Linked DNA regions of Homo sapiens: region 1 is linked to region 2. Evidence: fine-mapped expression QTL. Tissue or cell type: thyroid. Region 2 holds a variant in brackets; the other region holds the start of a gene. All regions are shown on one strand. Distances are from middle to middle.

Evidence for each region. PIP is the estimated chance that this variant, and not a neighbour inherited with it, causes the effect.
Region 1: MAST3 starts here. The variant in region 2 is fine-mapped to the expression of MAST3 in thyroid (GTEx, PIP above 0.99).

The regions. Positions count from the first base shown.
Region 1 is chr19:18,094,877-18,099,876 of GRCh38, forward strand. It overlaps MAST3 (microtubule associated serine/threonine kinase 3), which reads left to right and starts at 2,902. Exons shown (of 28, transcript NM_001393504.1): 1 at 2,902-2,955. The coding sequence starts at 2,917. It also overlaps a transcript of IL12RB1 not described here. RefSeq lists a silencer at 2,637-3,146.
Region 2 is chr19:18,143,424-18,149,079 of GRCh38, forward strand. MAST3 (microtubule associated serine/threonine kinase 3) reads left to right here. Exons shown (of 28, transcript NM_001393504.1): 22 at 340-584; 23 at 1,043-1,270; 24 at 1,580-1,806; 25 at 2,320-2,442; 26 at 3,458-3,621; 27 at 4,020-4,201. LOC124904650 (a long non-coding RNA gene) reads right to left here and starts at 345. Exons shown (of 3, transcript XR_007067153.1): 1 at 238-345. RefSeq lists enhancers at 1,858-2,359, 2,360-2,860. The variant C/T (reference allele first, on the strand shown) is at 2,741.

The DNA.
Region 1 (5,000 bases), 49 kb before region 2:
CCAAAATATATCCACAAAGGCAGGGGGCGGTAGCTCACACCTGCAATCCCAGCCTTTCGGGAGGCCAAGGTGGATGGATCACTTAAAGGTCAGGAGTTTGAGACCAGCCTGGCCAACATGGTGAAACCCCCGTCTCTACTAAAAATGCAAAAATTAGCTGGGAGTGGTGGCGGGTGTCTGTAATCCCAGCTACTCAGGAGGCTGAGGCAGGAGAATCAATTGAACCTGGGAGGCAGAGGTTGCAGTGAGCCAAGATCCCGCGACTGCACTCCAGCCTGGGCATCAGAGCAACACTTCATCTCAAAATAAATAAATAAAGAAATAAATCTATGCAAAAAGTTGTATGCCAATGTTTATAGCAGCTCTATTCAGAATAGCTACCAAAATGTGAAAAAATCCAAGTGACCACCAACAAATGAGTGGATCAACAAAATGTACATGTACATATATACAATGGAATATTATTTGGTCATGAAACGGAATGAAGTACTGATATTTGCCACAACATGGGTGCATCTTGAAAGCATGATGCTGAACGAAGCCAGACACATAAGGCCACATGTTATGTTTTCATTTTTATGAAATATCCAGCACAGGAAAATTCATAGAACAGGAAGCAGATTGGTAGTTGCCAGGGGCTGAGAGAGGGGGAATGAGGACTGGCTGCTAATAGGTACAGGGTTTCTTTTGGGGATGATACAAATGTCCTGGAATCAGATCGTGGTGATGGTTACACAACTCTGTGAGTATGCTTAAAACACTGAATTTATTGCACACTTTAAAAGCGTGAATTTTATGGTATGTGAATTATATGTCAATTTTTAAAATTGTATGAGAAAAACAAGTTTTCCCTGGCATCCTGTATTTTTATTTGCTCAATCTGGCCACCATAACTTGATGCAATTCTACAGTACCTCATGGACAGTCAGGCCCAGTGACCCTTCCTAGGGTCCCCTCGAGCCTGAAAGCATACTCCAGTGTCCACACTGTACAGTGGGGCAGCCGAAGACAACTGCGGCTGCAGAGAAAGTGCGAGTCCCAGGGAAAGAAAAAATGCAGGTGCTAAGCCAGGCACAGTGGCTCATGCCTGTAGTCCCAGCGCTTTGGGAGGCTGATGCAGGAGCATCACTTGAGGCCAGGAGTTCGAGACCAGCGCGGGAAACATGGCGGTACTCCATCTCTACAAAAAAAACCCAAAAAAATTAGCCAGGCATGGTGGCATGTGCCTGTGGTCCCACCTACTCTGGGAGCTGGGGTATGGGGGCTGAGGCAGGAAGATCGCTTGAGCCCGGGAGGTAGAGGCTGCAATGAGACAAGATTGCACCACTGCACTCCAGCCTGGGTGACAGAGAGAGACCCTGTCTCAAAAAAAAAATTTTTTTTTAAATGTGGGTGCTATTTTGGGACTTTGGGCTTTTCTCAGCCTCAGTTTCCCCTCCTGCAAAATGGAGTAGAACAATTATCTTCAAATATCTGTGAGAGATGGTGTTTATGAGACACTTAGGGCAAAAAGGCAATCATCCTCAAAAAAGAAACTGACAACTGCAGCGGCTACCTGCTTTTGTAAGTAAAGTTTTATTGGCACCAGGGCCAGGATTAAAGGGAGGCAAACAAGGCTGAGTGGTGCAAGGACAAGGGTCTGATCATGTCTTAAGAGTTTTAGTGTTTTGGCCAGGCAAAACACCAAAACTCTTTGGCCTGCAATCCCAGAACTTTGGGAGGCTAAGGTGGGTGAATCACCTGAGGCCAGGAGTTCGAGACAAGCCTGGCCAACATGGTGAGACCTCATCTCTACCAAAAATACAAAAAATCAGCCTGGTGTGGTGGTGGGCACCTGTAGTCCCAGCTACTAGGGAGGCTGAGGCATGAGAATAGCTTGAACCCAGGAGGCAGGGGTTGCCGAGATCATGCCACTGCATTCTAGTCTGGGCAACAGAGAGACTCGTCTCATAAATTAAAAAAAAAAAAAAAAAGTTTTGGTGTTTTGGCCATATGCGGTGGCTGACACCTGTAATCCCAACACTTTGGGAGGCCTAGGCAGAAGGATCTTTTGAGGCCAGGAGTTCAAGACCAGCCTGGGCAACATAGTGAGATCCCCGTCTCTAAAAATAAAATAAAAAATAAAAGTTTTGATGTTTTGTTCATCATAAATGTTTTCATTAATTTTATGTTTTTAAAATATTATTTCTCTTGATGGCTGAGTTTTGTGGGGCCACCTTAAATTTTGCACAGGGGTGAGATCCTCACTCGCCTCACCCTAGAACCCGTTCTGCTGTGTGTACTGGGCACATTTTTTGTTGTTGTTTTGTTTTTGTTTTTGAGACAGAGTCTCGCTCTGTCGCCCAGTCTGGAGTGCAGCGGCGCTATCCCGGCTCACTGTAACCTCCGCCTCTTGGATTCAAGCGATTCTCCTGCCTCAGTCTTCTGAGTAGCTGGGATTACAGGCGCGCGTCACCACCCCCAAGTAATTTTTTTTTTGTTTTGTTTTGGTTTTTTTTGTTTAGTAGAGACAGGGTTTCACCATGTTGGCCAGGGTGATCTCGAACTCCTGACCTCAAGTGATCTGCCCACCTCGGCCTCCCAAAGTGCTGGGATACAGGCGTGAGCCACTGCGCCCGGCCAATGCGCTGGGCATATTGATTAACCTATCTTAGCCTCAGTTTCTTCATCTGCAAAATGGGGCTGAACGATGCTGCCTTACTTCTGAGAGGATTCATGCAAAATATTTACTTCTGCGCTCTGCTGGAGGGGCGGGGCCAGCTCGCCCAGTGGGGGCGGGGCCCTGTGGTCGGGCTCCCCGGGAGGGGCGGGGCCAGGCCGTGTCAGCTGACCGGCCTGGCCAATGGCACCTGGCGGCGGGGCCTGGCAGGCCGGGGCGGGGCCGGGGGCGGGCCTGGCGGCGCGGACTCCCGGGCCATGGACGAGTCGAGCCTCCTGCGGCGCCGCGGGCTCCAGGTGAGGCCCCTGCGCGGGCGGGCGGAAGGCAGAGGGCGCGGCCAAGTGGACGCGGCCTGAAAGGTGCCGGGAGGGGCGGGGCCTTCACGGGCTGTAGGGAAACTGAGGCAGAGGGTGGGGAACGCTCAGATCGCTTCTTTTTGACCACCCGCTTCTCAAAGTGCTTTTTCTCATGGTGGGAAGGGGGAAGGTGCCCCCTTGGACATCTAGGGAAACTGAGGCTCCAAGCGATGGCGTGGGAGGAAGAGGCTGAGGGCTCTGCCCCTCCCCACCAGCTGTTCTAATAATAATGCTAGCAACAGCAGCCAGAGAGCTCACCATATGTTCATGGTTGTTTTAGTCCTATTACTAGCGATGTATTAATATGAGTTCATATGTATTAATACCTCCTTGGGTCGTCGCTGCACCACTGTACACCCTCAGCTCAGCCCTACGACGACCTGGGGAGGTTGGGGCTGTCAGGCGCCCATTTGTCAGAATAAGGAAACTGAGGCTCTAGTCCCGGAAAGCCACTCTCCAGAGGTCGCCTAGCTGGGATTCGATCTGCGCCCTCAACCAGCTCTCTTACGGCACAAGGCGCTGCCAACCAGCAGTGTGACCTGGGGGGAGGGCACCCTTGCTTCTCTGGGCCTCAGTTTTCCAATGAGCCATAGGGTCCTCCTTTTACTGAGTTTATGTTTAGGAGGCTGTGTCATCAGGAGGTAGGGACACAGGCGTCGGGGACAGCAGAAGCCTAAGTTTGAAGCCACACAGGGACTACATGACCCCGGGCAGCCACCCTTTGACTTCTCTGGGCCTCAGTGTCCCCATTATAAGAAAAGAAAAACAGGAATTAAGATTTGGCCATTTTCCTCTGGGACTTAGACCACACCCTTAAGAAGCCACCAAGTTTTCAGGTAGGGAACCTGGGATTCAGCACTTACCCAACGAACATTTATGGAGCGCCTGCTGTGTGCCTGGCTCTGGAGAGGCAGCGGAGTGTTCTGCAACCTCTGGAGCTGCCCTCCTAGAAACCCCAACCTGTTGGGGGAGGTAGACGCCAGAGCAGCGGTGACCCCACGGAGTGATCAGTTGTGATAAGGGACTCACAGCAAGTGAAGGAGGCGCCTGACCCAGTCATTGCTGGGAGCCCTGGGGTAGAGGAGGCAGCCAAGGGTGGCGAGGCATTGCAGCGGGGGGCGGTATTTAGGGAAATGAAAGAGGTTGACAGAAGCTGGAACCTAGGGAGGACTGAGCAGGTGGGGTGGGGGTCGGGGACTGAGGTTAGCTCCGGGCGGGTTGAGGGGGTGAGAGGAATGGGGCCGGCGGGTCTCCAACCTGGAGCCGCACCGGTAGCTGCGGGACTGCGAACTCAGCAGGTGATGGGAAGCCAGGTCGGGAGTGGTCAGGGAAGGCACGGGCTGAGCTGCAGATCAGAGACACCCGGTCTCTGGCCGCGCGGGGGTGGGGCAGAACTGGAGGCGCTGAGGCCAGAGGCAAGAGTGGGGGACTTGGGCGGAAAGGAGGGGGCGGGGCGGGATTGGCGAGCAGCGTGGTGTTGGTGGGGGGGCAGTCCCGCCTCCAGCCCCAGTTAGATGCCAACCCGCCCGCAGCCTCTTAAAATAGAGAAACCGCCTCCGGGTAGGCGAATGGGGGTGCTGCTGACGTCAAGAAGTGGGGCCTGTTCCATGGTGGGGGGGTCAAACATTTCCTGATGGTAAGTTCTATGTTACAAAAGGGGAAACTGAGGTTCAGAGAAGCATAGCCACTGTCCGGGTTTCACAAAGTATAGGTGACAGAGTCAGACAGGATTTGAACCCACGCAGTTCCGGCTTCCTCTCCAAACCAACCCAGCACAGGCGTCCCTCCACGAAGGTGGAGGGATGAGCACGGATTCCCCGACTGAATGAGGGCATTCCGGGCAGAGGCCACAGCACGTGCAAAGGCCCAGAGGCATGTAGCCTTTCTTACCTGTTTATATGGGGAAACAAGAACTTGAACCTATTTCTTAGCACTAGAGGCTGATGGCCAGGACTTAATGCTTCCAGGGCCTTCAGTGCTGATTT
Region 2 (5,656 bases):
AAATTAGCCCAGTGTGGCGGCAGGCACCCATAATCCCAGCTACTTGGGAGGCTGAGGCAGGAGACTCACTTGAGCCCTGGAGGCAGTGGTTGTAGTGAGCTGAGATTGCACCACTGCACTTCAGCCTGGGTGACAGAGTGAGACCCTGTCTTTAAAAAAAAAGGTGAATAAGCGGTCTCCAGGTGGACAGAGAGGACAGTGCAGACAGAAGGAACTCGTCCTGTCTATGCAAATTACCCTTGACTGCAGACTGAGAGTTAAGATGTGGCCATGAAGGTGGCTGAGTATCCTGGGGTGCAGGTGCCTGGCAGGGGTGATGCAGGCTCTTCCTCCCTGCAGGCTGAGGTCCTGGACATCCTCTGGATCCTCCTGTCAGTCATCTTCGTCCCAGCCCGAGCGGGGTCCCAGCCCATCTCTCCTGAATACCATCAGCCTGGACACAATGCCCAAGTTTGCCTTCTCATCAGAGGATGAGGGGGTAGGCCCAGGCCCTGCAGGCCCCAAGAGGCCCGTCTTCATTCTAGGGGAGCCTGACCCCCCACCAGCGGCCACCCCAGTGATGCCCAAGCCCTCGAGCCTTTCTGGTAAGTGGGGCCCTGAGTAAGAGGGATGATGTCATGGAAGTTTCCCAGAGGAGGGGCTATTTGAGATGGGTTTTCAAGGATGAGTAGGAGTTCTCCAGAGCCAACAAAGGCTTTAAGAGAGGAGAAGCCAGGGTCCCAGAGAGACCCCCAGCCCCCAAGGAACCCCAGTCTAGGGTAAATGCCCCCAGCTTCATAGAGTCAGGATGGGACCCCTAGCTCCCAAGATGGGGGAACTAAGGGTCTAAATGGGTGTGGAGGAAGGCTTCCTGGAGGAGGGGACTTGAAGACTTTTGCATAGAGAATAATTTGGGAAGGGAGTGCAGGAAGAGGGAACTGCATGAGCAAAGGCCAGGAGGCTGGACTGTGTAAATAGTGACCAGGGAGGAAGGGCCTTAAGGTCCCTTTAGGACCACATGGTGAGTTTGAGGGGCACCCAGCTGACCCTGCTGACCCTCTAGCCGACACAGCTGCTCTCAGCCACGCCCGCCTACGGAGCAATAGCATCGGCGCCCGACACTCCACACCAAGGCCTCTGGATGCCGGCCGGGGCCGCCGCCTTGGGGGCCCAAGAGACCCAGCCCCTGAGAAGTCCAGAGCCTCCTCCAGCGGTGGCAGTGGTGGCGGCAGTGGGGGCCGCGTGCCCAAGTCAGCCTCTGTCTCTGCCCTGTCCCTCATCATCACGGCAGGTAATGCCCAAGGCCCCTCTCACCTTTGTCTGTCTGCACCCATTTTCACCAACAGGGTGGGGGCCCTTCCTGAGTTGGGGAGGCTGGGGATGAGCCCCAGAAGAGGGGAGGAGGAGTAGGACACATGGAGAGCTGGGGAGATGGTGTTCCCAGTAGAGGGCACTGCACGTGCAAAGGCCTGGTGGGGTGACCATGCTTGGGACATTGAAGCAACAGCAAAGTGGCCAGGGTGGTCGTTGTGGTGGGAAAGAGGGGGCCCCAGGGGAGACCTGTGAGGGAGTGAGTGACCCCCTCCCTAACCCCCTGCAGATGATGGCAGCGGCGGCCCCCTCATGAGCCCCCTTTCCCCGCGCTCTCTGTCCTCGAACCCGTCGTCCCGTGACTCTTCGCCGAGCCGAGACCCGTCCCCCGTGTGTGGCAGCCTGCGGCCCCCCATCGTTATCCACAGCTCTGGCAAGAAGTACGGCTTCAGCCTGCGGGCGATCCGCGTCTACATGGGTGATAGCGACGTCTACACTGTGCACCACGTCGTCTGGGTGAGTGCCGAGTGGGAATGGCAGGGACCCGGGTTCTAGTTTGACTCTGCCCGGTCATGTCCCTTCTCAGAGCTGCATTTTGGAGCCTGGCAGGGTTAGGTAGATAGAGCTGGTGCCACCGAGTTCATCTCGGTCCCTGTCATTTGGCAGGGAGGAGGTCAGATGAGAGAGACAAGGATGGATGGATGGAAGCTCACAGATCCCAAGTGGCATTAACCTCCCAGCTCCATATGGGGACGCACTGGGCATGTTATCCTCCCTCTCCCAGCCCAAGGGCGTCGAGGCATGCCCTCCCTATTGGTTGCTCCCTGAACAGACACAGAAGGCTTTCTGGAGAAGGGGGCGTAGGAGCTGGGGCTTTGATGGGTGAGTAGGAGTTCCCCCAGGATCAGGGAAACTGAGACAGCACAAGAGGCAGCAGCTTGCTGGGGTCCCACAGCAGACCCAGCCTGGGCTGGGGTCCCCAGATGTGGGGCCCAGGCCATTGACCCCACCGTTCTCGTCTGCCCCCAGAGTGTGGAGGACGGAAGCCCCGCCCAGGAGGCGGGCCTGCGGGCTGGGGACCTCATCACCCACATCAACGGGGAGTCAGTGCTGGGGCTGGTGCACATGGACGTCGTGGAGCTGCTGCTGAAGGTGCGGCACCCCCACTGCCCACCCTCAGGGCTCCCCAGCACCCCTTGGCCGCAGCTCCCGGTTCCCCGTGGTTCTCCGCGTCCAGACACACAACCCCACATTCAATGTCAACTCCAGGCCTGGCACATCCACTTCCTTCGGCCCAGAATACATGTCCTTCTTCAGCCCCCAACATCACCCCTTAGAGCTGCTCCTCCAGGAAGCCCTCCCTTCTCCCTGGGCACCCTCACATCTGTTCCTCCCTCTGGCCTGAGGCCTGGAGGTAGGAGATGGGCTCAAGACAGGAGGAAGGGCCGGG[C/T]GCGGTGGCACACGCCTGTAATCCCAGCACTTTGGGAGGCCGAGGCAGGATGATCACCTGAGCTCAGGACTTTGAGACCAGCCTGGGCAACAGAGCGAGACCCCCATCTCTGCAAAAAATTAAAAAATAAAATTAGCTAGGCATGGTGGCATGCGCCTATAGTCCTAGGTACTTAGGAGTCTGAGGTGAGAGGATCGCTTGGGCCGAGGAGGTTGAGGCCATAGTGAGCTGTGATCGTGCCATACTGCACTCCAGCCTGGGACACAGAGTGAGACCCTCCCTGGTTCTAAAAAAATAGAGGGCTCTCATGTGGGCAGCTGCATGGGTGGTTCATTGAATAGCTGGACACTGGGTAGGTGTCTTTGGCCTAATGACTCATGGGCCATTAGGTGAGTGATTGGGGGATGGGGAGATGTTGGGGTGATTAATGGGTGGATACCAGATAGGTGGGTGACAGACCCCGGGAGGGTGGAGAGTGAAGAGGGCAGGCCTCGATCGGCGTTGACCGCAGAGGGAAGGATCTTAGCAGGAGGGGTGGTGCTCCCTGGGCTATTGTTTGACCGGATATATTGGGTAGGTCACTGGTTGTGTGGATGAATGGATGCTGGGGTGGTGGGTCCCAGCTGGTGCCCGGAGTGAAGGGGACATAGCAGCTGCCTGGCAAGTGCTGGGCCCTGTGAGAGGCACAGAGGCAACCCCTCACCATCCCTCCCGCAGAGCGGCAACAAGATATCCCTGCGGACCACAGCCCTGGAGAACACCTCCATCAAGGTGGGCCCCGCCCGGAAGAATGTGGCCAAGGGCCGCATGGCACGCAGGAGCAAGAGGAGCCGTCGGCGGGAGACCCAGGATCGGTGCGCGGCAGTGACCACCAGGGAGCGGTACACAGGGGGCGGGGCCACGGGGACTGGGGTTCTTTTTTTCTTTTCTTTTTCCTTTTTTTTTTTTTTTTTTTTTTGAGACAGAGTCTTGCTCTGTTGCCCAGGCTGGAGTGCAGTGGCTCAATCTCGGCTCACTGCAACCTCCACCTCCCGGGTTCAAGCGACTGTCCTGCCTCAGCCCCCTAAGTAACTGGGACTACGGCGTGCACCATCATGCCCAGCTAATTTTTATATTTTCAGTAGAGACAGGGTTTCGCCATGTTGGCCAGGCTGGTCTCGAACTCCTGACCTTAAATGATCCATCTGCCTCGGCCTCTGAAAGTGCTGGGATTACAGGTGTGAGCCACCATGCCTGGCCAGGAGCAGGGGTTCTGAAGCCTCCGGTTTTCTTACCCCAGGCGGAAGTCACTTTTCAAGAAGATCTCCAAGCAGACCTCCGTGCTGCACACCAGCCGCAGCTTCTCCTCCGGACTCCACCACTCACTGTCATCCAGTGAGAGCCTCCCCGGCTCGCCCACCCACAGCCTCTCCCCCAGCCCCACCACTCCCTGCCGAAGCCCAGCCCCTGATGTCCCAGCAGGTGGGTGCACCCCGACCCCCCACCACCCCGGCTACCCTGGGAGCAAGGGCTGGTGGGCCCCAGGAGGGAGGAAGGAGTTCAGGGGATGGAATGACACGATGTAGGGAAAAAGATGACCGGGATCCTGGTGTCTAGCAGGGAACCTGGGAGTACTTAGAGACGAATGCAGGTGCCAGGGAAGGATGCACCCAGCAGAGGAAACATCATGGACAAATGGGGCTAGACAGGAGGGTGGGAAAACTGAGAAGAGGCCAGGCACGGAGGCTCACGCCTGTAATCCCAACACTTTGGGAGCCCGAGGCAGGAGGATCACTGAGCCCAGGAGTTTGAGACCAGCCTGGGCAACACAGGGAGACCCCATCTGTACAAAACATAAAAAAATTAGGTGGGTGTGAGGCCGGGCATGGAGGCTCACACCTGTAATCCCAGCACTTTGGGAGGCCGAGGCAGGTGGATCACCTGAGGTCGGGAGTTCAAGACCAGCCTGGCCAACATGGAGAAACCCCGTCTGTACTAAAAATACAAAATCAGCCAGGTGTGGTGGCACATGCCTGTAGTCCCAGCTACTAGGGAGGCTGAGGCAGGAGAATCGCTTGAACCCAGGAGGTGGAGGTTGCGGTGAGCCGAGATTGAGCCATTGCACTCCAGCCTGGGCAACAAGAGCAAAACTCCATCTCAAAAAAAAAAATTAGGTGGTTGTGGTGGTGCACACATGTGGTCCCAGCTACTCTGGAGGCTGAGATGGGAGGCTCACTTGAGCCCAGGAGGTCAAGGCTGCAGTGAGCCATGATTGCACCACTGCACTCCAGCCTAGGCAACAGAGTGAGACCCCATCTCAAAAAACAAAAGGGAAAAAAAAAAAGAAAACAGAAGTGATACAGAGAAGGCTTTCTGGAGGAGGGGGAGTAGGAGCTGGGGCTTTGATGGGTGAGTGGGAGTTCACCAGAGCTAGGCCAAGGAAACAACCCTGAGCAGGAGGCAGAAAAGTCTGGCATGAACCAGGCATGATGGCTCATGCCTGTAATCCCAGCACTTTGGGAGGCCAAAGCAGGCGGATCACTTGAGGTCAGGAGTTTGAGACCAGCCTGGCCAACATGGTGAAACCCCAACTCTACTAAAAATACAAAAATTAGCCAGATGTGGTGGCACATGCCTGTAGTCCCAGTTACTTAGGGGGCCGAGGCACGAGAATCATTTCAACCTGGGAGGTGAAGGTTGCAGTGAGCCAAGATCATGCCACTGCACTCCAGCCTGGGTGACAGAGCGAGACTCTATTGAAAAAAAAAAAATTAGCCAGCCATGGTGACGTGCACCTGTTGTCCCAGCTACTCAGGAGGCTGAGTTGTGAGGATCACTTCAGCCCAGGAGGTTGAGGCTATGATTGAGCCAGTGCACTACAGTCTGGGCAACAGAGCAAGACCCTGTCTCAAAAACAAAAACAACCAGGCATGATGG